Regions from separate parts of the Homo sapiens genome. Here region 2 is linked to region 1. Evidence: fine-mapped expression QTL. Tissue or cell type: whole blood. Region 1 holds a variant in brackets; the other region holds the start of a gene. All regions are shown on one strand. Distances are between the middles of the regions.

What was found. PIP is the estimated chance that this variant, and not a neighbour inherited with it, causes the effect.
Region 2: ZMYND19 starts here. The variant in region 1 is fine-mapped to the expression of ZMYND19 in whole blood (TOPMed, PIP above 0.99).

The regions. Positions count from the first base shown.
Region 1 is chr9:137,555,220-137,558,112 of GRCh38, forward strand. It overlaps DPH7 (diphthamide biosynthesis 7), which reads right to left. Exons shown (of 9, transcript NM_138778.5): 9 at 1-429. The coding sequence ends at 20. Among named protein-coding and RNA genes, the nearest start is that of MRPL41, 4.8 kb to the left of the region's middle. The variant A/G (reference allele first, on the strand shown) is at 1,373.
Region 2 is chr9:137,589,400-137,592,292 of GRCh38, forward strand. ZMYND19 (zinc finger MYND-type containing 19) reads right to left here and starts at 1,113. Exons shown (of 6, transcript NM_138462.3): 1 at 814-1,113. The coding sequence starts at 864. LOC124902318 (a long non-coding RNA gene) reads right to left here. Exons shown (of 3, transcript XR_007061885.1): 3 at 1,640-1,709. RefSeq lists an enhancer at 199-248 and silencers at 519-568, 619-728, 1,009-1,398, 1,589-1,658.

The DNA.
Region 1 (2,893 bases):
GGGCTTCATGATTTCAAGCTCAGTTCCCCTCCCACTCCCAGAGGTGGAGCGCATGGTCATAGAAGGAGCAGGTGGCCAGGAGGCTGAAGGCTGAGTCTGCTTCTTCTGGGTTCACGCCACAGTCACGTGTGGTGGCTGCTGTAGCCTGCAGCCAGGTGCCATTCTTCCTCATGCCCTCTGTGAGTGGCTTCATTCCACTCTGGGGTCTGGCATGGCCCTCCCCATCGTTATCCTCTCTGCATTCATGACAGGGTGTTGGCAACTCGCTTGCACCCTTCAGGTCTGCCGTCTTGGTTCCTAGGTTGCTAGGAAAGGACCACGAGGGGGCCCGCTGCAGAGAACGGAAGAGCAGCCAGGACCAGTCGGCTCCATACACCAGCGAGTCGGGCAATGTGTGAGATGTCAGGACCGTCGCCTCCTGCCTCTCCTCTGGAGTGAGAGATGGGAGAACCCAGGAAACACAACATCACCCAGAGCCTCTCCCCAACCTGTCACACCTGACAGGGAGACTCCAAGAACAGCCCCTCACAGGTCAGCAAGTGTTTCCTGAGGAGCCGTTGTGTCATGCAAAGGAACCAGCAAGACCTGGGCATATGTTGGAGAAGAAACAGACCGTCATCTTGCAGTGCACACGCCTGTGTGCCTCCAAGAGAAGCATCAAGCGGGGCTACAGAACCTCACTTGATGGTGAAGAATACGGCAAAAGCCAGAGAGGGGGAAAGACCTCAGTTAACACTTAAAACCAAAGAACAAAGGAGTTTTAGCCAGCTGGGAAGGAAGGGGATGTCTGAGGAACAGGCAGCATGTGTACAGCAGAGGTGAGAAAGTCCAAGGCTCGCACGGGGAACCACAAACAGGCAGCCATGGCACTGTCAGTGAGTGACAGTGGGCTGGAGCGTCCCAAGCATGCAGGGTCCGGCACGCCCTGTTTCAGAGTCTGGATTCTGGCTTGGAAAGGAGCCACTGACAAGGTTAAGTGAGCAGTTTCTTTATAGAAGTTGCTACGGCAACTGGAAAGAGGCCACAACTGCCTCCCAGAGCACACAGCAACAGAGGGAATGACGAGGCGTGGCCAAACCCGAGGCGATCTGGAGTCCAGGAGGCAAGGCCAGGGCTGGCAGGGGCAGTTGCAGAGAGCAAGTGGAAGGTGAGCCAGGGGCTGCAAGGCTGGGTGGCCACTTGGGCTCTGAAAGGGCTGCCATCGCTACCTCTGAAGTACAGGGATTGATGCCAGCAGTGACCGGAATCAGAACCAGAATGAGTGCTGATGGAAGAAGGGCTGAGGGCAGAACAGGACCGCACTGGATTACAAAACGTGCCGAGGTTGTATGGGCCTGGGCCGGGGAGGCCCAACCCTGGGCCCAGGGCTTCA[A/G]CTGGGCAGAGGTGGCTCCGAGGAGGAGTGAGATGCTGAATGTTCAGAGACAGCCACAGGGGCCCTCGAGCAGCATGTGTGGGGCGACCCTCGGGAGGAAGCCCCTGGGGAGGCCGTTACTGTCCCTTGGGAGGTAGCGTCACAGGGCAGGCAGGACCTCCGCTAGTCTTTCATCCAGCAATCGCTCAACACGTCCACTCGGGCCAGCAGGACCTCTTCTACAGCTTAGGAAAAGGTAATAAGGCAGAGTCTAAGCCCTCAGAGAGCCACAGCCTGGGAAAAAGACAGCGAATGAGTGGACGGAAGACACTGTTGCGACCCCAAGAATGGGAGGCCCTTTCTGATTAGCCACAGGCCAACGTTTCCTCCCTCTTTTTATTTTCAAGACAGGACCTCACTCTGTCGCATAGGCTGGAGTGCACTGACCTGGGCTCTGTCTTCCTGCCTCACCTCCTGAGTAGCTGCGACCATCATGCCCCCTAGTTTTTTCTATTTTTTGTGGCCACGGAGTCTCACTATGTTGTCCAGGCTAGTCTTGAACTCCCGGCTCAAGCAATCCGCCCACCCTTCCCAGAGTGCTGTGACTGCGAGTGTCAGCCACCGCACCCAGACAATACAAATTGTTTTAAAATTAGGCCGGGCGCGGTGGCTCACACCTGTAATCCCAGCACTTTGGGAAGCCAAGGCGGGTGGATCACAAGGTCAAGAGATCGAGACCATCCTGGTCAACATGGTGAAACCCCGTGTCTATTAAAAATACAAAAACTAGCTGGGTGTGGTGGCATGCACCTGTAGTACCAGCTACTCGGGAGGCTGAGGCAGCATAATTGCTTGAACGTGGGAGGTGGAGGTTGCATGAGCCAAGATCGTGCCACTGCACTCCAGCCTGGGTGAAAGAGCAAGACTCTGTCTCAAAAAAAAAAAATTGTTTAAATTAAAGATACAGGCTGGGTGCAGTGGCTCACGCCTGTAATTCCAGCACTTTGGGAGGCCGAGGCAGGTGGATCACATGAGGGCAGGAGTTTGAGAGCAGCCTGGGAAACATGGTGAAACCCCATCTCTACTAAAAGCACAAAAATTAGCCAGGCATGATGGCGCATGCCTGTAGTCCCAGCTACACAGGAGCCTGAGGCAGGAGAATCCCCTGAACCTGTGAGGTGGAGGTTGCAGTAAGCTGAGATCACCCCACTGCACTCCAGCCTGGGCGACAGAGCAAGACTCTGTCTCAAAAAAATACATAAATAAAGTTATGAAAAAGGCCAGCCGAGCACAGCGGCTCACGCCTGTAATCCTAACACTTTGGGAGGCCGAGGCGGGTTGATCACCTGAGGTCAGGAGTTCAAGACCAGCCTGACCAACATGGTAAAACCTCGTCTCTACTAAAAAATACAAAAATTAGCCAGGCGTGGTGGCACACACCTGTAATCCCAGCTACTCCGGAGGCTGCAGCAGGAGAGTTGCTTGAACCCGGAAGGTGGGAGTTGCAGTGAGCTGAGATTGTGCCATTGTATTCCAGCCTGG
Region 2 (2,893 bases), 34 kb after region 1:
TTACCTGACGCCGCCTGACACTGCCTCGGCTCCTCTCTCCCACCAAAAGCCGCAGCCGCTGGTGACGGGAACAGGGCTCCCATCCGGGTAAGGACCCTGGCTGGTGCAGCTGCACAGGTGGCTCCGAGAAACCGCCAAGCCTCAATGCCCACAGGTGCCATGGAATCCCCAGCCTCAAACGTGGAGCGTGGGGGCCAAGTAAGAAGAGAAGTCGAGGAAGGCCCTGAGTCTGCAGCATCAGGGCCCAGGCTTCTTCCTCTCTGCTCCGAGTCTGAGGCTCAGCCTAACGTGGCCAACCCCTGGCAGCGTTAAAACGAGCCTGAAGCCCTGCTGAGAACTGGGAGGCACAGAAGAGCCCACACCAGACCCGCCTCGGCGAGAGGTGTGGAAGTGGCGCTGCCTCGGAAAGGGCGCTGTGTTTAAACCGTGTGGCCGCACTGGCAGCCCGGACGCCGCGCTAGGCCCCGGATCGCCGACACCACTGGGAGGGCTCCGGGAGAACGCGGCTCGGGCTCGAGCCACGCATCTCCGCACCCGGCTCGGGACAGGGCCGTGGCCTCCACCTCCGGCAGGGCAGGGCCGAGGGTGGCCAGGTGCACCCCAGAGCCGAGGGGTGCGTGCCCGCCGGCCTGCGAGAGGAAGCTGCACCCGCGCGGGGCCAGCAGCCGGGCCCGCGCAGCGTCCCCCGCCCCGCTGGGGCCCATCCCGGGCTCCGCGCCCCCGCCCCGGCCGCCGCCCGCACAACCGCCCCCGGCCCCGCGCGGAGGCCTGGACGGGCGAGACGGGCCGGGTCGCGGGCTCCGCGCCGCTCACCTTCCCGGCCACCCGGCCGAGCCGCACGATACCCAATTTGAAGTCGGTCATGGCCGGGCCTGCGCTCTCGGCCGGCAGCGCCGCTCCCTCGGGAGGCGCCGAGCGGGGGCCGGGGCGAGGCCGCGGCGCGCCGGGACAGGACGGGACCGGAGCCGGGGTCGGGGTAGCAGCCAGGCGGGCTCCGGGCGGGACGAGGCTGGGCCGGGCTCGGGCCTCCGCCGCCGCCTCGCGCCCGCCGGACCTGCCACGCGCCGCCGCCGCCGCCGCCACCGCCACCGCGCGCACCACAGCGAGCGGAGCGGAGGGGCGGGGCGCAGCCCCGGACACACCCCCCGGCCCGCCGCCGCTCGGCCAATGGCTAGGCGCGCACGGCGCCGACCGGCGCGCGCCGCCCCGCAACAACCAATAGGAGGAGGGCGAGTGCGCCGGCGCTCTGGGGAGCGGGGCGAGCGCGGGGGAGGGGCGAGGCCGGGGGCGGTGCCTGCGCGCGCCGACGTCAGTTTCGCGGGAAGCTTTGTGCGGGCAGCGGCGCCGCGCCTAGAGGGGCAGTGCGGAGTGTGGCTGGGGACTCGCGCCGGGTCCGTGGAGCTCTGCGAGCTGGCTGCTTTTCGCCTCCCTTGCGGTAGCCTCCGTAAGCTGTTTCCCGCCGCCGTCCTGGCCCCGAGCGCGGAAGGAGGAGGTGGACGGAGCTCGTGCGGGGCCCTCTGGGCGGGCGGGGAGCGGGCGAGGCGGGCTAGGAAGAGGCCGTTGCCGCGGGACGCGGGTGTTTCTGGAGAGACAGCGGACGCCCGGCCCACGCGACCCGGAGGGCGCGGCCTCCCGCGCAGCCTTCTCCGAGCCGCCGGCTCTTCAGCCTCGGGGGCGGCTGACCTCCAGAGCAGCCTGGTCCAAGGCGTCTGGAAACGGAACTCCAGTGAGGCCCATTAGGCTCCGCGGGAAAGCCGAGACCCGCTCAGGGAGGGACTGGGTACGCCGTGGTGGGCAGCGTGGCTCCCCTGCAGCCTGGAGCGAACGGGGCTAGGTCCTGCGTCCTGCTCCGCCGGTGTCCAGTCGCCCGTGAGGAGGCCTCACCCTGCCTCAAGGGCGACTCCTGCACCTGAGGAGCTGCACAGGCTCCTTTCTGGCTTGCTGGGTTCCGTTTTCTTTTCTTGCTTTTTTTTTTTTTTTTTTTGAGTCAGAGTTTTGCTCTGTCACCCAGGCTAGAGTGCAGTGGCACGATCTCGGCTCACTGCAGCCTCTGCCTCTCGGGTTCAAGCGACTCTCCTGCCTCAGCCTCCCGAGTAGCTGGGACTACAGGCACGCGCCACCATGTCCGGCTAATTTTTGTATTTTTAGTAGAAGTGAGGTTTTTCCATATTGGCCAGGATGGTCTCGAACTCCCAACCTGAGGTGATCGGCCCACCTCGGCCTCCCAAAGTGCTGGGATTACAGGCATGAGCCACCGTGCCCCAGCCTGCAAAGGGTGTACATGAGTGAGCCCAGACGTTCCATCTCTGGGTCCCCTGGTACTTGCCAGTACCCCAGACACCCTAGAGGACTGAAGGGGCTGATGAGTCCTGGCCTGCCTGAGACACACATTGGGGTTCAGGCTGGGCCTTGCTCAAAACATGCCTGTCCGACCGCGCGCGGTGGCTCATGCCTGTAATCCTAGCACTTTGGGAGGCCGAGGCGGGCAGATCACGAGGTCAGGAGCTGGAGACCATCCTGGCTAACACGGTGAAACCCCACCTCTACTAAAAATACAAAAAAAAAAGCCGGGCGTGGTGGCGGGTGCCTGTAGTCCCAGCTACTTGGGAGGCTGAGGCAAGAGAATGGCTTGAACCCGGGAGGCAGAGCTTGCAGTGAGCCGAGATCGTGCCACTGCACTCCAGGTTGGGCGACAGAGCGAGACTCCGTCTCAAAAAAAAAAAAAAAAGTACCTGCCCTACCAATCTCAACCTCATGGAGTTGCAAGGGTGTGATGAGATTATGAGCAACTGCTTTGTGAAAAGAAGTGGAGCTTGGTGGGTGCTCCCTAGGGTAGTTGAAAAGCACTGGTGTCATAGTCCAGGTTCCCCCAGAGGTTGACTTGAAATGGATT